4 linked regions of the Homo sapiens genome follow. The protein of the gene in region 4 interacts with the protein of the main gene of each other region in a biochemical or structural test. Each region holds a gene or a part of one and is shown on either strand. Other genes may lie near its edges.

Region 1 (7,000 bases), on a different chromosome or scaffold from region 4:
AGGCCCTTGTGATTTCTCTGGGGAAAAGGAGGACTGGAGTTGATCATTTATTGAGGCCATCAGAAGCGGATGGCTAATTACATATGGGACATGTGTTAATAATGCTTTGTGTATATAGAGTGGCCTTTACTTTCAAAACACTCTTCTCCAATTTATCATGTTAAAAGCTAGGAATTGGGCTGGGTGCAGTGGCTCACGCCTATAATCCCAGCACTTTGGGAGGCCAAGGCGGGTGGATCATTTGAGGTCAGGAGTTTGAGACCAGTCTGACCAACATGGTTAAACTCCGTCTCTACTAAAAATACAAAATTAGCCAGGCGTGGTGGCACACACCTGTAGTCCCAACAACTACTTGTGAGGCTGAGGCAGGAAAATCATTTGAACCCAGGATCAGAGGTTGTGGTGAACTGAGATTGCACCATTGCACTCCAGCCTGGGCAACAAGAGCAAAACTCTATCTCAAAAAAAATAAAAAATAGCCAGGCACGGTGGCTCATGCCTGTAATCCTAGCACTTTGGGAGGCAGAGGTGGGCAGATCACCTGAGGTTAGGAGTTCGAGACTAGCCTGGCCAACATGGTGAAACCCCATCTCTACTACAAATACAAAAATTAGCTAGGCATGGTGGCAGCCACCTGTAATCCCAGCTACTTGGGAGGCTGAGGCAGGAGAATCGCTTGAACCCGGGAGGTGGAGGTTGCAGTGAGCCAAGATCGGGTCACAGCACTCCAGCCTAGGCAACAGAGCGAGACTCCATCTCAAAAAAACATAAATAAATAAAAATAAAAATAAATAATAAATAAAAGCTAAGAATCAAAGAAGCAGTTTATTCCTAATTTCACAGTCTCATCTGTTCATAGTGGGGCCAGGATTAGAGTCAGTGGCCAAGCTTCCATCCTGGGTTCTTTCCCTTCCCAGGCCCTACCATCATAGTATACCAGGGAAAGACCTGGAGAAGCCAGCAGGTTGACCACCGAACCAAGGCTGGGCCACCTTCCTCCTGGGTCTGGTCTCCAGCCTCCCAGTTGTACCCTTCCCCCAGCCCTTCCTGGATGCACTGATCAGCCTGTGCTTCCTTGCCCTGTTTTTCTTTATAAATAGAGCCATGTTCTCCTCTCTCTCTCTCTCTTTTTTTTTTTTTTTTTTTTGAGATGGAGTCTTACTCTGTCACCCAGGCTGGAGTGCAATGGCACGATCTCAGCTCACTGCAACCTCTGTCTCCCAGGTTCAAGCAATTCTCCTGCCTCAGCCTCCCGAGTAGCTGGGATTACAGGTGCCCACCACCATGCCCAGCTACTTTTTGGATTTTTAGTAGAGACAGGGTTTCACCATGTTGGTCAGGCTGGTCTTGAACTCCTGACCTTAGGTGTTCTGCCCGCCTCAGCCTCCCAAAGTGCTGGGATTACAGGCGTGAGCCACCACGCCTGGCAAGACGTGTTCTCTCTATGTTGTTGAGGCTGGTCTTGAACTCCTGGCTGCAAGAGATCTTCCTGCCTCAGCCTCCCAATGTGCTGGGATTATAGGCATGAGCCACCACACTTAGCCCAGCCTGTGCTTTCTTAAATGAAAATCTAAGCATACGGCTGGGTGTGGTGGCTCACGCCTGTAATCCCAGCATTTTGGGAGGCCAAGGTGGGCAGATCACGAGGTCAGGAGATCGAGACTATCCTGGCCAACATGGTGAAACCCTGTCTCTACTAAAGATACAAAAATTAGCTGGGTGTGGTGGCCCATGTCTGTAGTCCCAGCTACTCGGGAGACTGAGGCAGGAGAATGGCATGAACCTGGGAGGCAGAGCTTGCAGTGAGCTGAGATCGCGCCACTGCTCTCCAGCCTAGGTGACAGAGCGAGACTCCATCTCAAAAAAAAAATAAAAATAAAAAAAAGAAAATCTAAGCGTGGTGCTCCCCTGCTCAAACATCCTCAGGTTCTTTTCATGGCAGATAAGGGCATCTCTTCATGAGCCAGCCCCTGCCTACTGACCCAGCCACCTCTCCCATCCCTTCCCACCCCGTACTTCAGGCTTCAGCAGTACTGATCTTTCCAAAGACCCCAGAACACACATGCCTTCATACCTCTGTGCCTGTACATGCTTGTTTCTGCCCTTGAAATCATGACAGTAGCTCTCTGTAGGCCCCGCTAGCCTGTCCCTTGGGTCTTAGCCTCTTGGAGGCCTTCCCAGAGCCCCCCAAAAGTACCCCAGGCATACTTTGGTTCCTTCTCTCATGTCCCCTCAGTACTTTGCACATACCTCCTTTATAGCAGTTGCTATGTTGTGCCAGAGAAGGGAGTCCTGTGGCTGGGGGGCATATATCTTTTCTTTTTGAGACAGAGTCTAGCTGTGTCACCCAGGCTGGAGTGCAGTAGTGCGATCTCGGCTCACTGCAACCTCCACCTCCTGGATTCAAGCGATTCTTGTGCCTCAGCCTCCTGAGTAGCTGGGACTACAGGCGTGTGCCACCATCATGCCTGGCTACTTTTTTGTATTAGATATATATTTTCTCTCTTAGCACAGTACCTACCAAGAGTGAGTGAGTAGATGTCCTGACCCCTGCAGGCATCCAAGGCCCTCCTTCCCTGGACCTGTTTCCACATGTGTGAAGGGGTGCACAGGCAGCAGCCCACCTCTCAGCTTCCTTCCAGTTCTTGTGTTCTGTGACCCCTTTTCCTCATCTCTGCCTGCTTCCTCACAGCTTGAGGCAGCCCTAGGTGAGGCCAAGAAGCAACTTCAGGATGAGATGCTGCGGCGGGTGGATGCTGAGAACAGGCTGCAGACCATGAAGGAGGAACTGGACTTCCAGAAGAACATCTACAGTGAGGTGGGGACTGTGCTTTGCAAGCCAGAGGGCTGGGGCTGGGTGATGACAGACTTGGGCTGGGCTAGGGGGGACCAGCTGTGTGCAGAGCTCGCCTTCCTGAGTCCCTTGCCCTAGTGGACAGGGAGTTGGGGGTGGCCAGCACTCAGCTCCCAGGTTAAAGTGGGGCTGGTAGTGGCTCATGGAGTAGGGCTGGGCAGGGAGCCCCGCCCCTGGGTCTTGGCCTCCCAGGAACTAATTCTGATTTTGGTTTCTGTGTCCTTCCTCCAACCCTTCCAGGAGCTGCGTGAGACCAAGCGCCGTCATGAGACCCGACTGGTGGAGATTGACAATGGGAAGCAGCGTGAGTTTGAGAGCCGGCTGGCGGATGCGCTGCAGGAACTGCGGGCCCAGCATGAGGACCAGGTGGAGCAGTATAAGAAGGAGCTGGAGAAGACTTATTCTGCCAAGGTGCTTGCTCTCGATTGGTTCCCTCACTGCCTCTGCCCTTGGCAGCCCTACCCTTACCCACGCTGGGCTATGCCTTCTGGGGATCAGGCAGATGGTGGCAGGGAGCTCAGGGTGGCCCAGGACCTGGGGCTGTAGCAGTGATGCCCAACTCAGGCCTGTGCCTCCACCCCTCCCAGTCACCACAGTCCTAACCCTTTGTCCTCCCCTCCAGCTGGACAATGCCAGGCAGTCTGCTGAGAGGAACAGCAACCTGGTGGGGGCTGCCCACGAGGAGCTGCAGCAGTCGCGCATCCGCATCGACAGCCTCTCTGCCCAGCTCAGCCAGCTCCAGAAGCAGGTGATACCCCACCTCACCCCTCTCTCCAGGGGCCTAGAGTCTGGGCCGGATGCAGGCTGGAAGCCCAGGGTTGGGGGTGGGGGTGGGGGTGGGAGGTTCCTGAGGAGGAGAGGGATGAAAAGTGTCCCCACAACCACAGAGAAGGGTCGCAGGATGTGGAGTCAGATGGCCTGTGTGCTGTTTCTGTACACTCTTACCTCACCTTCACTTCTCAGGGCTTTGGTTTTCCCATTCGAAAATGGAGGCTGTTCTTAATCTCCCTAACTCAGAGTTGCCACAGGACTCTGCAATGTGAGGTGTTAAAAGCATCAGTATTTTTCTAGTTGGCTGTGCTATTTGTGACAGGAGAAAAAGTCTAGCCTCAGAACGAGAGGTTTCAGTTAGACAAGGGGAAGGACTTCCCAGTTGCCAGCCAAGACTATGTTTAGAGCTTGTGATGTTCAGAGCTGGCTCTGATGAGGGCTCTGGGGAAGCTCTGATTGCAGATCCTGGAGAGAGTAGCCAGGTGTCTCCTACACCGACCCACGTCCCTCCTTCCCCATACTTAGGGCCCTTGGGAGCTCACCAAACCCTCCCACCCCCCTTCAGCTGGCAGCCAAGGAGGCGAAGCTTCGAGACCTGGAGGACTCACTGGCCCGTGAGCGGGACACCAGCCGGCGGCTGCTGGCGGAAAAGGAGCGGGAGATGGCCGAGATGCGGGCAAGGATGCAGCAGCAGCTGGACGAGTACCAGGAGCTTCTGGACATCAAGCTGGCCCTGGACATGGAGATCCACGCCTACCGCAAGCTCTTGGAGGGCGAGGAGGAGAGGTGGGCTGGGGAGACGTCGGGGAGGTGCTGGCAGTGTCCTCTGGCCGGCAACTGGCCTTGACTAGACCCCCACTTGGTCTCCCTCTCCCCAGGCTACGCCTGTCCCCCAGCCCTACCTCGCAGCGCAGCCGTGGCCGTGCTTCCTCTCACTCATCCCAGACACAGGGTGGGGGCAGCGTCACCAAAAAGCGCAAACTGGAGTCCACTGAGAGCCGCAGCAGCTTCTCACAGCACGCACGCACTAGCGGGCGCGTGGCCGTGGAGGAGGTGGATGAGGAGGGCAAGTTTGTCCGGCTGCGCAACAAGTCCAATGAGGTAGGCTCCTGCTCAGGGTCTAAGGGGATACAGCTGCATCAGGGAGAGAGTGGCAAGACAGAAGGATGGCATGTGGAGAGAGGAACATCCTTGCCCTCAGAGGGTGGACCAGGGTGAGCCTGTATATCTCCTCCACACTCTGGTTCCAGGCCTGGCTCCTGGACTCTTTGGCTGTGAGACCTTGAGCAGGTTATTTAACCTCTCAGAGCATCAGTTTCCTCATCTGTAAAATGGGGATGAATACTGATCCCTAAGTCTTTGAGTTGTCAGGAAGATGAAAGATAAGGTATCCGTGTGCCTGGTGCTGCGTATGTGTCCACAGATCATGGCTATTATCCCCGGGGGAAGGGCAGTGACAGGGGTGTGTGTAGATGGAAGGAGAGGCCTCAATTGCAGGCAGGCAGAGGGCTGGGCCTTTGAGCAAGATACACCCAAGAGCCTGGGTGAGCCTCCCCGACCTTCCTCTTCCCTATCTTCCCGGCAGGACCAGTCCATGGGCAATTGGCAGATCAAGCGCCAGAATGGAGATGATCCCTTGCTGACTTACCGGTTCCCACCAAAGTTCACCCTGAAGGCTGGGCAGGTGGTGACGGTGAGTGGCAGGGCGCTTGGGACTCTGGGGAGGCCTTGGGTGGCGATGGGAGCGCTGGGGTAAGTGTCCTTTTCTCCTCTCCAGATCTGGGCTGCAGGAGCTGGGGCCACCCACAGCCCCCCTACCGACCTGGTGTGGAAGGCACAGAACACCTGGGGCTGCGGGAACAGCCTGCGTACGGCTCTCATCAACTCCACTGGGGAAGTAAGTAGGCCTGGGCCTGGCTGCTTGCTGGACGAGGCTCCCCCTGATGGCCAACATCGGAGCCAGCTGCCCCCAACCCAAGTTTGCCAATTCAGGGCCCCTTTCTAGAGCTCTCTGTTGCAGGCTCCAGACTTCTCCACCCAGTAGGCAAACCAAAAGATGCTTCCTCAACAGCACAAGGGGTGGAAGTTAGACAGTGAGGATTGTTAAAGGCAGAGCCATACTCCTACCCGGAGAGCTTGACAGTGTCCCTCTGGGGTGGAAATGAGTTCCTTAGCTCCATCACCACAGAGGACAGAGTAAGCAGCAGGCCGGACAAAGGGCAGGCCACAAGAAAAGTTGCAGGTGGTCACTGGGGTAGACATGCTGTACAACCCTTCCCTGGCCCTGACCCTTGGACCTGGTTCCATGTCCCCACCAGGAAGTGGCCATGCGCAAGCTGGTGCGCTCAGTGACTGTGGTTGAGGACGACGAGGATGAGGATGGAGATGACCTGCTCCATCACCACCACGTGAGTGGTAGCCGCCGCTGAGGCCGAGCCTGCACTGGGGCCACCCAGCCAGGCCTGGGGGCAGCCTCTCCCCAGCCTCCCCGTGCCAAAAATCTTTTCATTAAAGAATGTTTTGGAACTTTACTCGCTGGCCTGGCCTTTCTTCTCTCTCCTCCCTATACCTTGAACAGGGAACCCAGGTGTCTGGGTGCCCTACTCTGGTAAGGAAGGGAGTGGGAACTTTCTGATGCCATGGAATATTCCTGTGGGAGCAGTGGACAAGGGTCTGGATTTGTCTTCTGGGAAAGGGAGGGGAGGACAGACGTGGGGCATGCCCGCCCTGCCTCTCTCCCCCATTCTTGTTGCATGCATATCCTCTCATTTCCCTCATTTTTCCTGCAAGAATGTTCTCTCTCATTCCTGACCGCCCCTCCACTCCAATTAATAGTGCATGCCTGCTGCCCTACAAGCTTGCTCCCGTTCTCTCTTCTTTTCCTCTTAAGCTCAGAGTAGCTAGAACAGAGTCAGAGTCACTGCTCTGGTTCTCTGTCCCCAAGTCTTCCTGAGCCTTCTCCCCTTTTATGTCTTCCCTCTCCTCCTCCGGGCCCCTAGCCTCCCAAACCCCCATTGCCCGCTGGCTCCTTGGGCACAGAACCACACCTTCCTGCCTGGCGGCTGGGAGCCTGCAGGAGCCTGGAGCCTGGTTGGGCCTGAGTGGTCAGTCCCAGACTCGCCGTCCCGCCTGAGCCTTGTCTCCCTTCCCAGGGCTCCCACTGCAGCAGCTCGGGGGACCCCGCTGAGTACAACCTGCGCTCGCGCACCGTGCTGTGCGGGACCTGCGGGCAGCCTGCCGACAAGGCATCTGCCAGCGGCTCAGGAGCCCAGGTGGGCGGACCCATCTCCTCTGGCTCTTCTGCCTCCAGTGTCACGGTCACTCGCAGCTACCGCAGTGTGGGGGGCAGTGGGGGTGGCAGCTTCGGGGACAATC
Region 2 (7,049 bases), on a different chromosome or scaffold from region 4:
TGAGCTCCTGTTCAGGTCCAACCTTGAGCAGTACTGCATGGTGGAAACAGCCTGGGCTTCACTGGAAGCCAGGAGACCTGGGTTTGCCTATTTAAAGCTGTGTGACCTAAACGTTGGTTTCCTCATTTATGAACCATGAGCCACAGTGCCTGACTCATAATTGATGCTTCAAAAAAAGTACATATGTTTAAGCTCCCAGACTGGTTAATCAATGTTTCAGCAGCCAATTAAGTGACACAGGGTATGTTTTGTTTCAGGGACAAGCATAATTTATTTCTGTGTTATATATCATGTCACAAGCTGAACCACAGAAGCTGCCTGTCTACCCTCGGCCCTTTCTCACTGACCAGACTGCTGAACCCATCTGGATCATGCTGGCTTAAACTCTTCGTTTGTATCCTATTGTGGGTCATGAACCCCTATGAGAATTTGATTAAAATTATGAACTCGCCCCAAGAAAAATGCATGTACACATAAGCACACAAAGTTGGCATACAATTGTGAGGGGTTCACAGAGTCCCTGAAGTATATCCTCAGACTCTGGCTGAAGGCCCTGTGTCTAAACCATGGCCTGCAGAGGGCAACAGGGCAGCTGGAGTCCACATTGAGAGCTGCATTCAGGAAAGCTGGGGACGCTGTAGAATTTGATGAGTTTTTTGAAGGCACTTTTCTTCAGCATCATCATGTCTTCTGGAAACCTGGAAAAGATTCTGACCCTGGAGGAGCCCCCATTCTTCACAGAGGCCTCTGTGGGCAGTGGCTTCTGAGCACTCACTGGCACACTGTTGCAACTGAGGGAGCGCACCGTCTTCTTCTTAGTCTGCACAGACAAGTAACTGAACAGGAAGGAGGACAGCTTGTGCTTGGTGGCATCTGGGGCCTCTTCTGAAAAGCAGTCATCAACTGGGTCCAGCAGGGTTTCAAGATGGAGGCCATTTTCCCTTTTCATGGGACCGGCTCCCACACGCTGAGGCTGCTTGATGATCTTCCTGGCCTGGACTGGATCATCTCCTGCCCCACTGACAGACTGAAGGGACGTTCCACAGGCCCAGGCTCTGGCACCCCTGATTTGGGAGATGAGGTTCCCAACCCGAGGGCTGGGTTGGGAAGTACAGTGCTGACTCAGGATGAGAGTGGCAGCATCTCGAATGAGATTCCAGTCTCTCAGGATGTCATCCCTAGTGGTAAACTGGGATGTCACAGTGAAACGGATGATTAACTTGTCCTGGATAGTGGCCGGGATGAGGAAGAGACGGCCAGCTTTAGCTATTTCCTTTAACACATTTTCTGTGAGACAATTAGGACCCTGTTTGAAAAATAAAGGAAGTGAAGTCTCCATCGCACCCCCTGTCAGCATCCCCAGAGCCCAGCATTTGTGTTTCCGAGAGGCTCTGGAGCACCACAAGACATCATTCACAGAGGGGCTTGGAAGATGGTATTACCTTTAGACGAAAAACCACCAGGCCAAGGTGCCTCTTGGCAGGAATTTCAAAGGAAGGGTCGTTTCTGACCAGAGATTCAAAATATTTAGCCATTTCAGTACCCTGGAATTGCAAGTATAAAGAGAACTGAGATTAATCATCAGACAAGAGACTATGCATAAACTTTCAGACTGCTAAATGGTTTTAAACCAGGGCCATCTTCCCGTCACAGCCGTTGTAAGCGGCTTCTGCCTCATTGTCATCTCCATTTGATTTTGCTCATATTCCAAGCTGGAAAATTTCCAATGGCGCCCTGTTTCCTGTCACATGGGATCCACCTCGAGAACTCATCTCAGGGCCCTCTTTCAACTCAGCCCCAGAACCCAGAAGGCATGTGCTTTGCAGTCCAGGCAACCCGGCCTCAACTCCTGATTTCACAGCTCCTTGACTGGCCAAGTGGGCAAGTGAGGGCCAAAACCCAGTCCATGCTCTGCGTTCCCAGCCAGGTGCCTCATGCGAGCTGCGTGTGCCTAAAGGAAGAGATGCCTGTTTGTAGTGCACATCAAGTTGCCATATGGGCTAGTGGCGGCCCTGCCCCATCCTAAGCCTACATGCTTCACTTGCCTCTCAAACCTCTTCTCACCCTGTACCCCAAATGCCCTTTTCATCCCCTGTTTCTGACATTCCATAGAGAACATATTTTCACATCTTGTCTCCACCCATCATGGAAAGGTTTTGGACCTGGTTAATGGATACAGAGTTTCTGCTCGGGATGATGAAAAAATTCTGGAAATAATGGTGATGGTCACACCACATTGTGAGTATTCTTAATGCCACTGAATTGTACACTTAAAAATGAGTAAAATGGTACATTCTATGGTATGAATATTTTGTTACAATTTTAAAATGTTAAAGGCTTTGTATTATATTAATCTTCCACTGAAGTTCATACCATCTTTTTAAATGTCCTGGGGTTTTTTGCTTTTTGTTTTTAACCCAGGATTACTAACTAAACAAGGACAGGACTTGCCTTCTCTTTTCTTTTTAAAAATTTCTCCAAGCATCCAGAAGATCTCAATAAAATATTTGCTAAGTAATTCTATCAGTTAGTTCTCATACTTACTGCTCTATTTCAAGAGAGGGCAAGGGAGTTAGCTGAACCTCTTTTTTTTTTTTTTTTTTTTTTTTTTGAGAGATAGGGTCTTGCTTTGTCACACAGGCTAGAGTACAGAGGCATGTTGCACAATCAAAGCTCACTGCAGCCTTGAACTCCTGAGCTCAAGTAATCCTCCCACCTTCACCTCCTGAGTAGCTAGGACTACAGACATGCACCACCATGCCCAGCTACATTTTTTAATTTTTTTGTAAAGACAGTGGTCTCACTAGGTTGTTCACCCTGGTATCAAACTCCTGGGCTTAAGCGATCCTCCTTCCTAGGCCTCCCAAAGTACTGGGATTACTGGCATGAGCCACCATGTCTGGCCCTGAGCCTGTCTTTTGACCATAATGAAATGAGTTTCTCCAAATCTTTCTCAGAGCCCCTTTCTCCCCTGCGTGGTCAGTTTCAAACAGCACAGGAGTTTTGACCTGCTCCATTTCTAACCTGGGCCCCTTCACCCCTCCTTAGGCAACCTGGTGATCCCTTGCTCCTGGGAGGTCACCATATTGATGCCGAACTTAGTGCGGACACTCAATTGGCATAGCACACCATAGCCCAGAACTCCCACCTGGGCTATGGTGGGAGCAATTGAGCTTCCCACCTCAGCCTCCCAAGTAGCTGGGACTACAGACACGTGCCCCTGTGCCCAGCTCAATCTTTCCATTTTTTAGAAGGAACCAAGGGAAAGTGACTTTCCCAAGGTACAAGTGACAGTAGGTAGATCTCCTCCCACTGTGCTTTTATCCCTCCTACAACACATGCTGTTTGCAATAACAGAAGCAGAGGTCAGGGGAGAGGAGAATACAGAGCACAGGCAGCACTGCCACCTCCAAAGCCCCACTTTACAGGTCATGAAAGCAGAGCTGCTGCCAGTGCCCTGCACCGCTCTAGGTCAAGGGCAGGCACAGTGCAGCCATGGCCAAATATAGCCCCCACCTGTGTTTGTAAAGTTTTTTGGAACACAGCATTCCCATTTGTTTACATATTGTCTACGGTAGCTCTTGTAGTACAGAGGTAATTACAATAGAGTATGGCCCACAAAGCCAAAAGTATTTAGTATCTGGCTTTTTACAGGAAATGTTTACCAATCCCTATTGTAGGTGATAGGAGATGAGGATGATGATGATGATGATGGTGATGATGATGACAATTTATTATAATTAGATGAAGAAGGAGATGATGAAGAAGGGGAAGAAGAGAAGAGGAAGAGGTACTCATTGAGTACTTAACTGAGTAGTAGGTAGACCCTGTGCTAAGGGCTGCATATATATTATCTCATTTAATTTGAGAGAGGTAGTATCCTTTTCTCATTTTTATAAATTAGGAAGGCATGGCCAGGGGTGGTGGCTCATGCCTGTAATCCTCGCACTTTGGGAGGCCAAGGTAGGCAGATTGCTTGAGCCCAGGAGCGTGAGAACAACCTGGGCAACATGACAAAACCCCATCTCTACAAAAAATACAAAAAGTAGCCAGGCATGATGGTATGCGCCTGTAGTCCCAGCTACTCAGGAGGCTGAGGTGGGAGGATCACCTGAGCCTGGGGAGGTCAAGGCTGCAGTGAGCTCTGATGGCACTACCGCACTTCAGCCTGAGCAACAGAGACCTCATCTCAAAAATAAATAACAATAAATAAATAAGGCAGACAAATATAGAAAGGTTAAGTAATTTGTCTAAGGTCATCAAACAGTAAAGGGTAGAACTAAAAATCCATTCTTTAAAGCACTTCTCTGTAACACAGAAATATGAAATTTAATTTTATATAACTTTCCAAGAGCTCAGTGTAGTAGAAAGCAGCCCAGAACTATGAAGAAAGGATTTGGAATTGGGAGGCTTCAGGGAAAGTCCCGGGCCTTCTTCCCTCAAGCAGGGCAATTACTCCCTCTGAGCCTTGCCAGGTTAGAGTGACCACCCCAGGCACTGTGCTAAGGATCTAATGAAGAACTAGAATTTATTTTTGTATTGAAGGCATTACGCAAGTGTCAATAATTATCATCACCGTCAAGTTGAAGAGATAAAATCAAATCATATCAAACAACTTTATTTTAATTCCATTTCTTCTATTGTGGGACATTGGAAGAACTTTGAGCACAGTTTTGTAAAGGTGTTTGAGTAGGTGATCACAGGAATGCTAATGAAGCAGAAACCAGAACAGATGGAATAGGCAGAAAAGCTTCTAGTGGAAGCAGAATTTAATCCATTCACAACATTTGGAGAGGAGAGGGTAGTTCAGGTGAAGGACACGGGTGAAGGTGCAGAGATGGACTGAGCATGAGGTCTGGATGGGTCGATGAAATGCCCAAGCTAAGGTAGGAGCTAATCGTCAAGTCCTTGAAAGCCAGGCCCAGGAGTGTGGGCCTCATATGGTAGGCAATGGGGTTGCTAATAGGAGGAATTCAGGGGTTTGATTTGCAAACAGAAGTGCTAAGGGAGGTTAGTCAGGATCTGCACATTGAATATCCAGTCCCAAACTGTAAGCAAAAAAATGTTCCTAATTACTTGTAACCTCCACCAACCATTCCCCGCCCACAACCCTCCAGTCTTGAGTCTGCATTTCTAGAAACAGCACAAAGTGCCTAAAGTTCCTCAATATTGTTGGTGGCAGCTGCTCATTGGTAAACAACCAGTGGTGATTACAAAGGTAAAATTACCAACATTAAAACCAGTCATAGGAAACTGGAGAACATTATGTTAAGCAAAATAAGCCAGGCACAGAAGGACAAATTTCACATGTTCTCACTCAAACGTGGGAGTTAAAAAGTAAGCAAACTGAGCTCGTGGAGACGCACAGTAGAATGATGGTTGGCAGAGGCTGGGAAGGGTAGCAGGGAATGGGGGATAAAGAGGTGATAGTTAACGGGCGCAAAAATACAATTAAATAGATCTAATGTTAGGCGGCACAATAAGGCAACTATAGTTAACTATAATTTGCTGTACATTTCAAACTAACTTAAAGAATGGAACTAGAATGTTTCTAACACAAAGAAATGATAAATGGTTGAGTGGTGGATACCCAGTTACCCTAATTTGATCATTGCACATTGTATGCCTGTATCAAAACCTCACACATACCCCATAAATATATACGTAATTATTATGTAAGCATAATAATTATTTTTTTTAAATGTTAAAAAAAATCATAGTTACCGCTTCCACCACTTCATTTTGGTTTGTGTTTGTTTAACCAAGAAGGAATTCCCTAGAGGAAAGGTGGAAGGACAAAGACACACATAGGCAGAAAGGACAGTGTCTTCAGCTTCCCCCACTACTTTTATCAATGGCTTTGTCTTGCATGTGGACTCTTGTAGAAGTGGGAGAACAATGCCAGTGGCCAGAGTTCTTAGTTAAGTCCCGCTTCTTCCATGAAGAACATGGGAGAGAGGCTGCACCTGTCTCATTTACCTCTGTGTCCCTTTCTTAGCACAATACCTTGTAATTGTTGAATTGAATAGAAATAAATTAAGCAAAATAGGCCTTCAATAAATGCCTGTTGATGCAGGGAGGTTTGTTCCAGACTTGGTAGGTCTACCTGTCCAAGCCAGGGGAGCTTTATTTCAGGCATAATCATAATAGTGCTAAAATATTCAGCCAGCTGTGACCATTGAGGTAATTCCAAAGCAGATAGGATCCTACCCTGGCCACACACACTTCCCCTTGATTTACTTTCTCTTTCTCTTTCCTGCAAACCAGACTCTGGGGCCAACCCTCCCCAGTGCTCAGTGACAGCAAGGGGAACGGTGAGACACTCAGCAGAGGACAGGCATCAGGCAGCCCTCAGGGCATGTTGTGCTCAGCGCTCCTCTGGTTAACAAAGAGAATCAAGTCCCAGGAGCTGAGGAACAGGCCCAGACACCTGAACCACACACCGCAAGTCTCCTAGGCAGATCTGCAAAGTAGAAACCAGCCTTCCTCGCCATGAGAAAACAGAGGAACACAGGCTCAGCCCCCACAGCAGCATGCTACATACATGTCTGACATGTGCTTGAAGATTCTTCACCCCGAAGGACCGAATCACGAACCAGAGTTTAACAGAGCGAAACCGTCGGCTCAGGGGGATCTGCCAGTGCTAGAAACAAAGGAACACAGTGCCCAAGGTTAGAGACAAGGGTGCCCCACTCCCTCGGGCATTTCTGGGCATTATCTGTTGCCTGCCCAGCCCTCCAGGGATGGACGATGTCACCATGACTCTGGGAGCTGTTGCTAAGGAGTAAGCCAAGCTCCCCAAGGGTTGCCCCATCGTGTGACCAAATCACTGATGAAGGTGGCCAATAGTCACTTGTCTGAGAGCCAGACAAGTGGAAGTCAAGTCCATTACCCTGAACCAATGAGAAGGGCACTTTGCTTTCAAGTGCTGCTTTAAACATTTCATCCCGGCCCAGAAACTCAACATAAGGGAAATACATTTTTACTCTAAATGAATCTTTATTCCTTGAATAGCAGAAAATAAAGTTCTATTTTTATTCCTCCCAAAA
Region 3 (7,000 bases), on a different chromosome or scaffold from region 4:
TTCCCCAGGGTGAGCCATGAGGCTCAACTGGGCCCGTAGCTGCTGATTCTGCTGGGTGGCAGCTTCCAGGCGCTCCTAAGGGGCCAGAAAAGAGAGTGAGAAGGCATGGAGGTTGCCAGGTTGTCCCCCTCGGGGCCCTGCCCTCACCAACTCCCTCACCTGGGTTTCCTGCAACTCTTGGCGGGCCATCTCGGCCACCGCTTTGCCCTGAGCTTCCTGCTGCTGCAGCTGGTCCACGAGCTGGGTCTGCAGCAGTAGCTGATTATGCAGCACCTCCTTCTCAGAGGTCAGCTGCTGATAGGCGGCCACATACTGCTGCAGGTGTCCCAGGTACTGGTCTCGCTGCTGCTGCAGACTTTGAGCCTCTTGGCTCTTCAGCTCCACCTGTAGGAAGACCCTGGGCGTGAGGGCAGGTGGTGGCCTGCTTCCAGATTCAGGGCCCATAAATAGGGTAGCGAGGGCTCTGTCACCTGCCCAGACCTCTGGCCCCTTGCTCCAGGCCTAAGTGACTGCCTCCCTTGTCTAGAGCCTCGTGCCTCCTTCCCCAGCCTCAAATTTCACATCCTTCTTCCCACCATTTAAACCGTAGGCCACAGACTGGTGGAAACGCAGAGGGAGCCAACCACCATCTGCTAAGTGTGCTACATGCCTAATGCTTTCCACGTATTATCTCATTGAATCCTCAGCACCTCTGCAAGGAAGATGCTAACTTCCTTTTTAAGTTAAAGAAACTGGGGCTTAGAGATGCAAAGTAGTTGAATGATGACCAGTGGAGCAAAGGCCAGAATCCAGTTTGAATCTAAGGAGCCTCTTATGCCGCTGTCTCTTCCCCTGTGATTGGGAGAAATCCATGCCTCTAGCTGGGACGATGATGTCCAGACCTGAGAGGAGCCCAAAGCTATCCACCTCTAAAAGTCAGAGGGCAGGGAGCAAGAAACAGTCACAGGACTGCCCTGGAGGGTGCTGGGGTCACCTGTGCCCCAGGCTGGAGCTGCCTCTGGCCTCACACCACCCCTCCCCAGAGGCTGGTGCCCGCCTCCCAGCCCTTCTTGGATGGGGCGGGGTTACCGTTTCCTTCAGCTCGCTCAGCTTCTCCTGCAGCTCGCCCAGCTTCTTTCCCAGCTCCCTCTTGACGTGCTGCTCCGACTGCAGTGCGCTGGTGATCTCCATGTTCTCATTAGTCTGGACAGAGAGAAGCAATCAGCGGCCACCCACTGCAGCTGGAGACCCCAGAACTTGCTGCCTTGGTGTCTGCCTCCCATGGCACCGGGAAGGGTGGAGGCAGGTTAGAAAAATCATCCCCTCTCCCCCACAGCCATCGGAGCAGGGCTCTGGCTCACAGATGCCTCCAGAAGTACCATTTCAAGTGAGGGCTACACTGCCCCACTTTACAGGTGGGAAAACAAAGGTCTGGAGGGCTAGGGAGGAGGGCGGGCTCTCCAGGTGGGGCAGCGCACCAGCTTTACAAATCCGCTCTGCAGCTCAGCCAGCTGCTCCTTGAGCTCCCGGTTCTGGGAGAGTGCGCGGCTGATGGTAGTGCGGTCGTTCTGCATGGTCTCCAGGATTTGCCTGCGCGCCTCCGCCTGCTCCCCCCAGAGCTCGGCCGCCCGCTCCAGCTCCAGCAGCCTCTCCTCCTGCTCCCGGTTCAGGCGACTCAAGCCCTCATTGTCTTGCACCTGGGCTTGAAGCTGTCCTGCCAGACCCTCCAGCTCCTTCCGCAGGTGCTCAGCCTCCGCTTGTAGCTGCTGCTCCACCTCGGAGGGCCCTGCTGGGGGCTCTGGGGGCGGGGGTTCAGCTGAGAAAGGACGCAGACAATAAAAGCCTCTGGATTCTCAAAAAAACCCTCCTCTTGGTCCATACCTCCTCTCAAGCTCCCCAAACTTGGCCTCCCTGCTGATGATTCCTCGCACCCGGATGTTAGCCAATCTTCCAAACCACTTTCCGATAGCGACAACTGTGGGTGGCTGACAACGGGCACTCCTTCGTCTTTGCTGATGGGGCACTGAGGCTCATGGAGATGACGAGACTTGCCATCTCCTGGCACAGACCTCTTTCCCTCTGCCTCAAAGCCATTCCATCCACCCAACTCCCTGGGGCATTCTAAACCACCCCCACAACCCTCTGACACCATTCCTGCTCCCAGGTCACCCCAGCCCCAGCTTACCCATCTGGTTCCTCAGTTCAGCCAAGCTCGTCTCCAGCTCCTGTACCCGACTCATGCTACATTCCTTCTCCTCTCTCAATGTGTGCACCTGCCCAAAGCACAGCAAGAAAGGGCCCTGGAGAGGGGCTGGTGGCTGGACAGGCTACCATCTCCCTCTGCCCCCACCGCCACAAAGCCCAGACCCATGACCACCTCTGGCTGTGCTCCTCCCATTTCGCAGATGCCCAGAAAGATCAAGTGACCTATCTAAGGTTGAGGGGGAGCTGAAGGGTCAGGTCTCACCTGCTCTGACATCTGCTGCATCCTCTGCCGCCACATGGCGCTCTCTCCTTTGAGATTCTCCGCATATTTATCTCTCTCCATTTGTAGTTGTCTAACCGACTCCATTACCTGCAAGAATGGCCACAGAAATGAGGAAGGACTGTCACTGGTTGTCACCTACTCCTGGCCACCTGGGGTCATCTTCCTTCTACATCCCTCCCCTGCAAAGCCTCACCTGCCCCAGGTGTGCTTCCAGCTGTGCCCGCTCCTCCATGGCCTGCTGTAACTGCTGGTTAGCATCAGGGGCTTCACACCGGCTTGAAAACTGGATGGTGAAGAGCGAGAAGTTTAGATCTGGGGAGCCCAGGCCGTTCCAAATAGTGCCCCTTAAAAGGGCTAGGGCTAGGCTCAATGTGCAACTCAGTCAATACAACTCTGCTGTCAAGTTTCTTTGCTTTAGAAATAAAAAATAATTTTAAAAAGATCTCAGGCCAGGCATGGTGGCTGATGCCTGTAATCTCAACACTTTGGGAGGCTGAGGTGGGTGGATTGCTTGAGCTCAGGAGTTCAAGACCAACCTCGGCAACATGGCAAAGCCCCGTATCTACAAATACAAAAATTAGCCAGGCATGGTAGTGTGCGCCTGTAGTCCCAACTACTTGAGAAGCTGAGGCAGGAGGATGGCTTGAGCCTGGGAAGTAGAGGTTGCAGTAAGTATCACTCCAGCCTGGGTGATAGAGCGAGACCCCGTCTAAAAAAAAAAAAAAAAAGATCTCTACTCTCTATTATTAGTGAAAGTGTTGGCTTGAACCTCAGAAGGAAATAAACAGACTCATGAGCTAGCCATATAAATGTAATCTCTAAAATAATGGTTTTCACCCATGATGCTTTAAAACAAAACAAAACAAAACAAAACAAAAATTGTCTTAAGCCCTAACCCTAAGATTCTGATTCCCCAGGTCCCCAATTTGTAGATTTTTAGCACTCTCTAGAGGATTTTATGCCAGGACCGGAACAAGGACCCAAATTTTCCAGCTCTTGGCTGGAGTCTCCCCATGCCCTGCATGATCCCTAGACCATGGCCCCAGCTGGATGGCGCTCCCACCACCCATGGGGCTGCAGCCTCTTGCCTGTTGAAGCAGGAGTTCCGTCATCTCTAACTTCTTTTGCAATTCTTCCAAGTTAAGCTGCATGCCAGCCTTCTCAGTCACTAGGACCCGAAGCTTCTCTTCCAATTCTGATTTCTCTTGCTTCAGGTCCTCATTGCTTTGGCTATGGCCAGAGGCAGTAGAGAAAGGAATGAACGAAGAACAGAAAGGACTGCTTTGGTGATCCACCCTCTACCCTTGCCCCACAACCACAGAACTGTGGCACTGGAAGGAACCCCAGGAATCAAAAGTCACATGTACAGGCCAGAGAAAAGATACGAGTTACCCAAGGCTACACCATGAGTCAGTGGCACAGCTGGCACTAGAGCTTTGCTGGGCACACATGCACACCTCTATGACTACCTCATCATGCTTACCTGTACCCCCCACCTCCCAGCACACCACCCATGCTGAGGGCCCCCAGACCTCCCATCCCACCATCCCCCATCCTACGTGTTCTTGTATAACTCCAGCCTGAGGGCGTCTCTCTCTTTGGTTAACTCCTTGTTGTACTGTAAATACAGAAAGGTTAAGTCAGGATATAGCAGGCAGAGGAGCAGCTGGCCAACCAGTAACAACAGCTACAGTAAGTACTCCACAGTAACACTTCCTCACTCTCAATCACACTTGACATGTTTTCAAGGCATTTCCAAGCCCATGGTCTCATTTTGTTGTTGCTGTTGTTGTTTTTGAGACAGAGTCTCCCTCTGTCACCCAGGCTGAAGTGCAGTGGTGAGATCTCAGCTCACAACCTCTGCCTCCCTGGTCCAAGTGACTCTCCTGCCTCAGCCTCCTGAGTAGCTGGGACTATAGGCGTGCACCACCATGTCCGGCTAATTTGTTTTGTTTTGTTTTTTCTGAGATGGAGTCTCTGTTGCCCAGGCTGGAGTGCAGTGGCGCAATTTCGGCTCACTGCAAGCTCCGCCTCCCGGGTTCATGCCATTCTCCTGCTTCAGCCTCCTAAGTAGCTGGGACTACAGGCCCCCGCCACCACACCCGGCTAATTTTTTTGTATTTTTAGTAGAGACGAGGTTTCACTGTGTTAGCAAGGATGGTCTCGATCTCCTGACCTTGTGATCCGCCCGTCTCAGCCTCCCAAAGTGCTGGGATTACAGGCGTGAGCCACCATGCCTGGCCTAATTTTTTTATTTTTAATAGAGAGGGGGTTTCAACATGTTGGCCAGGCTGGTCTTGACTCCTGACCTCAAGTGATCCGCCCGCCTCAACTTCCCAAAGTGTTGGGATTACGGCACCCGGCTGGTCTCATTTGTTTTTAAAAAAACTTGGTAAGGGTGGCCGGGTGCGGTGGCTCACGCCTGTAATCCTGGCACTTTGGGAGGCCGAGGGGGACGGATTACGAGATCAGGGGATCGAGACCATCCTGGCTAACACGGTGAAACCCCATCTCTACTAAAAAAAAAAAAAATACAAAAAATTAGCCAGGCGTGGTGGCAGGTGCCTGTAGTCCCAGCTACTCGGGAGGCTGAGGCAGGAGAATGGCATGAACCCGGGAGACAGAGCTTGCAGTGAGCCGAGATGGTGCCACTGCACTCCAGCCTGGGCAACAGAGTGAGACTCCGTCTCAAAAAAAAAGGACTTGGTAAGGGTGGAAGGAACAGGGAGAGAGAGCGAATTTATGTATGTACGTATGTATGTATATATGTATTTATTTGAGATGGAGTCTCCATCTGTCACCCAGGCTGGAGTGCAGTGGCGCCATCTTGGCTCACTGCAACCTCTGCCTCCCGGGTTCATGTGATTCTCCTGCCTCAGGCTCCTGAGTACCTAGGATTACAGGCATGCGCCATCATGCCTGGCTAATTTTTGTTATTATTTATTTATTTATTTATTTATTTATTTATTTTCAGACAGAGTCTCCCTCTGTCACCCAGGCTGGAGGGCAGTGGCACGATCTCAGCTCACCGCAACTTCCGCCCCCGGGTTCAAGCAATTCTCCTGCCTCAGCCTCCCAAGTAGCTGCAATTACAGGGGCACGCCACCACACCTGGCTAATTTTTTGCATTTTTAGTAGACACAGGGTTTTGCTATGTTGGTCAGGCTGGTCTCGAACTCCTGACCTCAGTTGACCCACCTGCCTCGGCCTCCCAAAGTGCTGGGATTACAGGCATGAGCCACCACACCTGGCCAAGATCGAATTTACAGCTGGCTAACAGAGGCCCAGAGAGATCAGATAATATTGCTATTGTTATTATCATTATTACTACCACTGTTTGAACCTTTATTGAATGCTTCACCAGGCACCATGCTAACAATCCCATTTAATCCTCATAACCACCACATGAGACAGTTACTATTATTACCTCTATTTTGTAGATGGACAACACGGAATATTAGAGGTTAAGTGCTTGCCTAAGATCACTTAGACAGAGCTCGGATTTGAACACCCAGGTATATCTGACTCTCTAAGCTCATTTGTTCCCCGAGGGTGGGGGCACAAATAGGAAGGGGGAAATTATCTTTTGTTCAGTTTTTGAAAGGATGATATATTCAGATAGTCCAAAACTCCGAAAGGGCAGAAGGGAAATATCTTCCAGCCGTGCTGTTCCTCTCTCCTGAGTTTGTTATGAATCCATGCAGACACGTTTTATGTATATTGTCATAGTACATAGGTACACATACACACACACGTTCCCTCTCTCTACACAAATGGTAACATACTAAAGATACTCTTCTGTACCTTCACAGTACAAGTACCATATTCCCCCACCTAGGACTTGACCAAGGCCACAGCCAGGTAACGGCACAGCGGGCACTTGGCCTCCGAGCTCTGCGTCCAGTGTTCACTCCCCACAGTGCCCCCAAACTCACCCACAGCAGCTGACTCAGCCCCAGGATGCCTCTAGCAACCACACACAAAAGCAGTGATAAATGGCCCATGCTGCCTTCTAGGCAGGACAGTCAACCCTGCAGAAGGGACCTTTAGGCTCACTCCTCCATCTGGGAAGCCAGTATGCCAGGGGACGGGGCAGGCAGTTGGACTCACCCTGTCTGCCTTCTTCTGCTGCGTGGAGACAGCAGAGAGAGCCCGCTCCAACTCTCCCACACGCCGCCGGGAATACTGCAGGCGGCTGGCCAGATCTTCAGACTCTCCTGGAATGAGAGAGGTTGAGATGGGGCCCAAAGGACTCCCCCTAAAGGCCTGTCAAAGTGCCAGGTTGAAGGATGATGGGGTGCCCAGATTCCCACCTTCTTTCTGCCTGGCAGCATGCTGAGTGTGAGCCAGGGCTGTCTGTAACTCAGCTTTCTCTGATACGAGGATCCCTATGGTCTGAATGTGAACCTTTGGGAGGAAACCCAAGCAAGTGCTGAAAAAGAAGGAAAGAAACATTCTCCAGAGGACAGGACGGAACTTCACACCCTCCACTCACCTGTAACTGCTCCCTTAGGGCTCCCTGCTTTTGGTGGC
Region 4 (7,120 bases):
TTGTAAAGACCATCAATGCTAGGAAGAAACTGCATCAACTAACGAGCAAAATAACCAGCTAGCATCATAATGACAGGACCAAATTCACACATAACAATATTAATCTTAAGTGTAAATGGGCTAAATGCCCCAATTAAAAGACACAGACTGGCAAATGGGATAAAGAGTCAAGACCAATCAGTGTGCTGTATTCAGGAGACCAATCTCCATGCAAAGACACACATAGGCTCAAAATAAAGGGATGGAGGAAGATCTACCAAGCAAATGGAAAGCAAAAAAAGCAAGGGTTGCAATCCTAGTCTCTGATAAAACAGACTTTAAACCAACAAAGACCAAAAAAGACAAGGCCATTACATAATGGTAAAGGGATCAATGCAACAAGGAGAGCTAACAATCCTAAATATATATGCACACAATTCAGGAGGACCCAGATTCATAAAGCAAGTCCTTGAAGACCTACAAAGAGATTTAGACTCCCACACAATAATAATGGAAGACTTTAACACCCCACTATCAATATTAGACAGATCAACGAGACAGAAGGTTAACAAGGATATCCAGGACTTGAACTCAGTTCTGCACCAAGCAGATCTAATAGACATCTACAAAACTCTCCATCACAAATCAATAGAATATACATTCTTCTCAGCAACACATCGCACTTAATCTAAAATTGACCACATAATTTGAAGTAAAGCACTCCTCAGCAAATATAAAAGAACAGAAATCACAACAAACTGTCTCTCAGACCACAGTGCAACCAAATTAGAACTCAGGATTAAGAAACTCACTGAAAACCACACAACTACATGGAAACTGAACAACCTGCTCCTGAATGACTACTGGGTAAATAACAAAATGAAGTCAGAAATAAAGATGTTCTCTGAAACCAATGAGAACAAAGACACAACATACCAGAATCTCTGGGACACATTTAAAGGAGTGTGTAGAGAGAAATGTATAGCACTAAATGCCCACAAGAGAAAGCAGAAAAGATCTAAAATCAACACCCTAACATCACAATGCTAAAAACTAGAGAAGCAAGAGCAAACAAATTCAAAAGCTAGCAGAAGGCAAGAAATAATTAAGATCAGAGCAGAACTGAAGGAGCTAGAGACACAAAAAACCCTTCAAAACATCAATGAATCCAGGAGGTGGTTTTTTGAAAAGATCAACAAAAATGACAGACTACTAGCAAGACTAATAAAGAAAAAAAGAGAAGAATCAAATAAATGCAATAAAAAATGAAAAAGGGGATATCACCACCGATCCCACAGAAATACAAACTACCATCAGAGAATACTATAAACACCTCTATGCAAATAAACTAGAAAATCTAGAAGAAATGGATAAACTCCTGGACACATCCACCCTCCCAAGACTAAACCAGGAAGAAGTTGAATCTCTGAATAGATCAATAACAGGTTCTGAAATTGAGGTAATAATTAATAGCCTACCGACCAAAAAAAGTCCAGAACCAGATGGATTCACAGCCAAATTCTACCATATGTATAAAGAGGAGCTGGTATCATTCCCTCTGAAACTATTCCAATCACTAGAAAAAGAGGGAATCCTCCCTAGCTCATTTTATGAGGCCAGCATCATCCTGATACCAAAGCCTGGCAGAGACACAACAAAAAAAGAGAATTTTAGACCAATATCCCTGATGAACATCGATGCGAAAATCCTCAATACAATACTGGCAAACCAAATCGAGCAGTACATCAAAAAGCTTATTCGCCATGATCAAGTTGGCTTCATCCCTGGGATGCAAGGCTGGTTCAACATATGCAAATCAATAAACATAATCCATCACATAAACAGAACCAACAACAAAAACCACATGATTATCTCAATACATGCAGAAAGGGCCTTCAACAAAATTCAACAACCTTCATGCCAAAAACTCTCAATAAACTAGGTATTGATGGGACGTATCTCAAAATAATAAGAGCTATTTATGACAAACCCACAGCCAATATCATACTGAATGGACAGAAACTGGAAGCATTCCCTTTGAAAACTGGCACAAGACAAGGATGCCCTCTTTCACCACTCTTATTCAACATAGTGTTGGAAGTTCTGGCTACAGCAATCAGGCAAGAAACAGAAATAAAGTGTATTCAACTAGGAAAACAGGGAGTCAAATTGTCTCTGTTTGCAGATGACATGATTGTATATCTAGAAAACCCCATCATCTCAGCCCAAAATCTCCTTAAGCTGATGAGCAACTTCAGCAAAGTCTCAGGATACAAAATCAATGTGCAAAAATCACAAGCATTCCTATACACCAATAACAGACAAACAGAGAGCCAAATCATGAGTGAACTCCCATTCACAATTGCTTCAAAGAGAATAAAATACCTAGGAATCCAACTTACAAGGGATGTGAAGGACCTCTTCAATGAGAGCTACAAACCACTGCTCAACGAAATAAAAGAAGACACAAACAAATGGAAAAACATTCCATGCTCATGGATAGGAAGAATCAATATCATGACAATGGCCATACTGCCCAAAGTTATTTATGGATTCAATGCCATCCCCATCAAGCTTCCAATGACTTTCTTCACAGAATTGGAAAAAACTACTTTAAAGTTCATATGGAACCAAACAAGAGCCCACATTGCCAAGACAATCCTAAGCCAAAAGAACAAAGCTGGAAGCATCATGCTACCTGACTTCAAACTATACTACAAGGCTACAGTAACCAAAACAGCATGGTACTGGTAATGGCTGCACAACTATGCAAATATACTAAAATCCATTGACTCATACACTCTAAATGGGTGACCTTTATGGTGTGTGAATTATGTCTCATAAAGTTGTTAGAAGTCAACATAAATGGAAGAGCAACCATTCACATAAAAATAAACAAAATTGTCAATGTTTTAAGAATTTTTCAGTAGGTGTAGTTAATTACAATTTGACTTTTTTAAGTCTGCACTAAAATTACTCACCAAAACCAATAGCAGGGTCCTCACTGCTGTTACTGAAAATGATTAACCTTTGATACACTTGTAATATCTGAGAAAAAGAAATGCAGGGGTCTCAGCAGGGCTCCCTTCTAAGGTCACTTGATTTCTAAAGAAGTAACCACTAGGTTTGAAGTCATCAGGATGTTAACTATGGGGATGGTTGGTTCAGTACCCAACATCCTGACAGCACATCTGACCATGTATATTGTATCGGAGACCACATCCTCAGCTCAGAAAAAGAGCTGAACTCATTTCAAATAGAAAGCACACTGCATACTGTTCCTCCAGGGACTGAGGTTGACTCTTCTTAGAGTGAGACATTCCCCAACATTGGAACAAAAATGACTCCCACTTCTTTTCTCACCTAAACCTGTTCAGAAGAAAGTAAGGAAGAAAGGCAGGAAGCAGGGGTCGGGGGGGGGCGGGGAGGGAGGGAAACTCGGAGATACTTTCAGTATCTAAAGTTGTGAAACTAGACAATCAGGAACGCACAATCAGAGGGCTGAAAAGGGCCAAGAGCCCCTACCCTCCTCCAGCCCATGTTCCCACACCTGCCACAGACCAGGCAGGAGCACAATAAACACTCACCACAAAGTGGGGAAGGAAAATCCAGGCAGGAGCCTCTATGTAAATAAATCTCCCTCCTGTCCTCAGCTTGCACTTGGCCTGCTAATTCTTATATAACCCAAGGAGACAGCTAGAAAGAATTTTGATTGGTGACCAATTTTGAGGACTTTTATTAAAATTCTAATTTAAGTCTTCGAGAGTTTCCAGTCATGGATACTACAGATAATATTGCAGATGATGAAAGCGTCTTCAAAATCATAGCTGAGACACTTTACAGTCTTCCCTGGTGTACTCTGATGGCAACAAGGTCCCTTGCCCCTCTCCTACCCTGTAGAATTCCAGCGCCCCCCTCAGCAGTCCTAGCAAAGGAAAGCCTGCCTGCTGGCAGTGAGCCATCATCCACCATTCTCACTTATTTGGATTTGGTTTCCTAATGCTAAACTTTGAAACTTGAAAAAAAAAATGAAAGGAAACCACATCCTTTTTACTCTCAGTATATAGATAGAGGCAGTTAAGAACTGAAAACAGATTTTCAGGTTGATTGATGTGGGACAGCAGCCACAATGAGGAACTCCTATAGATTTCTGGCATCCTCTCTCTCAGTTGTCGTTTCTCTCCTGCTAATTCCTGAAGGTAAGACTGATTCTTCTCATTTCCATTATGACCATGAAGCAAAATGGAGCAGACTTTCAATGAACTTTTGGCAATATTACCTTCCTATACTGAAAGAAGATGTTTTCCCCCAAGCCTTATAATGTTTAGCCAGGCACAATGGCACATGCCTGTAGTCCCAGCTACTAGGAACGCTGAGGTGGAAGGATCACTTGAGCGCAGGAGTTTGAGTCCAGGCTGGGCGACATAGTGAGACCCTGTCTCTATTTTTTTTTTTTAAATAGCATTCTTTCTTGGATTTTAAATATGTCTGTATTTTAGAAAAAAAAATCTTTTCTTCTCATAATTATTTTGCAAAAGATAGCAGAACCACCAATGCTTATTGCTGCCAATTTGTAACTTGAAAATTGCCAAAAAGGACAATGTAAAAATGAGTTAACAAAACTCTCTTGTTCGTAAAACAAATAGTACCTTCCAGGAAAGGAATAGTGGCAACTTAGTCAGCTCAGCCTTTCCTGCTGCAGAAAATGCATAGATAAAGACAATTAAGACAAATCTGACCTAGACACCAAAAGTGAATCAGGAATTATTAGAATTTTTATACTTATTTCTCTGGTCTAGAGACTCTTTGGCAATAAATTAAGGCGTGAGGCCAGTTCCCTCATTAACCCTTTGGGTGTGCTATAGTATTTTTTATTAAGCTAATTTTTTGTCTACCAAATGGTAACCAATATTTCTGCTTTTGTGTGAGTTGAGCATGCATGGGTTAAAATGCTGTATAATTCATGGTATTACCACTGAAAGGGTGACAGCTCTTGGGGAGCTCTAGATTTCCCTTGAAGAACCTGCTAGGAAGTGAGGACTACTCTCAAGCTGTGGCAATATGGAGCCAGCCACGGTTTTTCCCAGGATTCATCAGCTTTTGGAGGCAGGGACTTATGTAATAACCTGCCTTGCCAGGAATTCCCAAAGAACTCTGGTTTATCATATTTAGGTGCATATCTGGTTTATGCACCTAAATATGAGAAGACTTTGGGAGGCTGAGGTGGGTGTTTCACAAGGTCAAGAGATGGAGACCATCTTGGCCAACATGGTGAAACCTTGTCTCCACTAAAAAAACAAAAATTAGCTGGGTATGGTGGCACGTGCCTGTAATCCCAGCTACGCAGGAGGCTGAGGCAGGAGAATCGCTTGAACCAGAGAGTTGGAGGCTGCAGTGAGCTAAGATCGTGCCACTGCACTCCAGCCTGGTGACAGAGCGAGACTCTGTCTCAAAAAAAAAACAAAAAAGAGAGAGAGAGAGAAGAAATATAAAAATAACAAGGCTGCAGGACATTTGGGACAAAGGTTGGCTATGTTATAAGCAGGGCATAGTATGACTATATTCAGGCATGTTAAATCCTCCATAACAGAAAAACACAGGGCAGATAAATCCAGCCATATCTTTTCTTCAAAGGAAAACAACAAAAGCAACCTGCTGTGCTCCTCTTTGTTTCCTGTGTTCAGAGAGGGCAGTGTGGGCCCATATAAGGAACAGACAGCAAAGCAAGGCACAGTTGAAATCTATCTGTACATGAATCACCCTAGGAAAATTGGGATTGGGTGAAGGTCTTTTGTTTCTATAAGCTCTTTACCCTTTTGTTTCTAGAGCCTAGAATTTCTTCCTCCCAGTTTCCTTTTTAAAAGCAGAGACCTCTGCTTTTTCAAATCACACTAGCCACATTTCATGTGGTCACTCTCCTCCTTGCTCTTACCCTCATCAAATCTTACGAAAGGCTTCTATAGCTGTCATTAATACTTGCCTGTGAATTTGGCAATGACTTAGTCCTAATTATGGAACAAGAGGCACTGTGCCCTATTCAAGAAACCATGAGTCTCAGCAAAACTATTTTGGGAGAATCCAAGAACATCTGGTGCAGGAGGTGGAGCACTCGGAGTGTATCACTAAGACATAAGGTTCTCTCTATCTGCATGTATGGTTTGCCTTGTGTTTAGTTCTCACTGTTCCTTAACAATGGGTCTCTACTTCAAGACTATCATCAAGGAAATGTCACTTAGGCAGAATTCTTGGCATATGGTATCTTCTCTCTTCTCTTCCCTATCTCATTGGAAAAGACCTTAGATTAAACCCCATGGTTTGGTCTAGAGATTGAAGGGGAGGTGCAATCGATGTTATTTTCTTAACTTATGAGTGAGAACAGTGCAGTTTAATAACCAAAAGTCTCATAATGACCAAAGGACTGAGGGGTAGGGTCACAGCTAAACGATGCTAATATCGGTTCATAAGCTATATTTTTGCAATGGCTTGGGGTTAAAAGGGAAGTTATGAGGCTTCTAAAAGTCTTATCTATTTCCCCCAAATTAATAGTTAGCCAAAAAGGGTGGGAGCACTTGAGGTTGTCACTACCACTGGCATTTCCTGCAGCAACTGTTGATGGTAAAGACCAAGGCAGAGCTTTCTGCCCTGGGGCCTGAGGTTGCTGGTTTGTGACATCCAGCCTAATGATCCTGGAACAGTCAATGGCCTCGCTTCTGTGGGTGGAAAAACAGGACCCTAGAGTCCAACAGGAATAGGATTTGCATCAGATGTCTGCGGGTCTACATAGAGTAAAAGCAGGGGAAATGCTCTCATCCAGACTTCCTCTCTGAGTGCAAAAAGCATGGCTGGTCTTAGAAACATGACTTTGTGTAGAGCTCTTTGGGGGTGAGCACCAATCTGATTTGTCTTTTTCCATTGAACAGATGTCTGTGAAAAAATTATTGGAGGAAATGAAGTAACTCCTCATTCAAGACCCTACATGGTCCTACTTAGTCTTGACAGAAAAACCATCTGTGCTGGGGCTTTGATTGCAAAAGACTGGGTGTTGACTGCAGCTCACTGTAACTTGTAAGTGCCTGGGTTTTTAAAAAAAAGTTTGTAAAGATACTCTAATTTGGGGAAACATTAATAAAAAGAGTAGGCC

What was found.
Region 1: of the proteins of GZMA (region 4) and LMNA, one has a biochemical effect on the other in vitro, tested with the Homo sapiens proteins (one study listed by BioGRID).
Region 2: of the proteins of GZMA (region 4) and HDC, one has a biochemical effect on the other in vitro, tested with the Homo sapiens proteins (one study listed by BioGRID).
Region 3: of the proteins of GZMA (region 4) and GOLGA2, one has a biochemical effect on the other in vitro, tested with the Homo sapiens proteins (one study listed by BioGRID).

Annotation. Positions count from the first base shown.
Region 1 is NC_000001.11:156,131,711-156,138,710, forward strand, and holds part of LMNA (lamin), read left to right. Parts: intron 1-2,692; coding exon 2,693-2,818; intron 2,819-3,094; coding exon 3,095-3,265; intron 3,266-3,476; coding exon 3,477-3,602; intron 3,603-4,150; coding exon of another isoform or gene 4,151-4,190; coding exon 4,191-4,411; intron 4,412-4,503; coding exon 4,504-4,726; intron 4,727-5,210; coding exon 5,211-5,318; intron 5,319-5,402; coding exon 5,403-5,522; intron 5,523-5,943; coding exon 5,944-6,033; coding exon of another isoform or gene 6,034-6,054; exon of another isoform or gene 6,055-6,156; intron 6,157-6,777; coding exon 6,778-7,000.
Region 2 is NC_000015.10:50,241,701-50,248,749, forward strand, and holds the end of HDC (histidine decarboxylase), read right to left. Parts: intron 6,644-7,049; coding exon 6,545-6,643; intron 1,545-6,544; coding exon 1,443-1,544; intron 1,307-1,442; coding exon 560-1,306; 3' UTR 247-559; downstream 1-246. UniProt on the Homo sapiens protein: Catalyzes the biosynthesis of histamine from histidine.
Region 3 is NC_000009.12:128,259,008-128,266,007, forward strand, and holds part of GOLGA2 (golgin subfamily A member 2), read right to left. Parts: coding exon 6,963-7,000; intron 6,875-6,962; coding exon 6,781-6,874; intron 6,685-6,780; coding exon 6,578-6,684; intron 4,086-6,577; coding exon 4,027-4,085; intron 3,698-4,026; coding exon 3,556-3,697; intron 2,751-3,555; coding exon 2,661-2,750; intron 2,555-2,660; coding exon 2,447-2,554; intron 2,253-2,446; coding exon 2,165-2,252; intron 1,796-2,164; coding exon 1,458-1,795; intron 1,183-1,457; coding exon 1,069-1,182; intron 385-1,068; coding exon 160-384; intron 76-159; coding exon 1-75. UniProt on the Homo sapiens protein: Peripheral membrane component of the cis-Golgi stack that acts as a membrane skeleton that maintains the structure of the Golgi apparatus, and as a vesicle thether that facilitates vesicle fusion to the Golgi membrane.
Region 4 is NC_000005.10:55,098,575-55,105,694, forward strand, and holds the start of GZMA (granzyme A precursor), read left to right. Parts: upstream 1-4,071; 5' UTR 4,072-4,108; coding exon 4,109-4,178; intron 4,179-6,899; coding exon 6,900-7,044; intron 7,045-7,120. UniProt on the Homo sapiens protein: Abundant protease in the cytosolic granules of cytotoxic T-cells and NK-cells which activates caspase-independent pyroptosis when delivered into the target cell through the immunological synapse. It cleaves after Lys or Arg.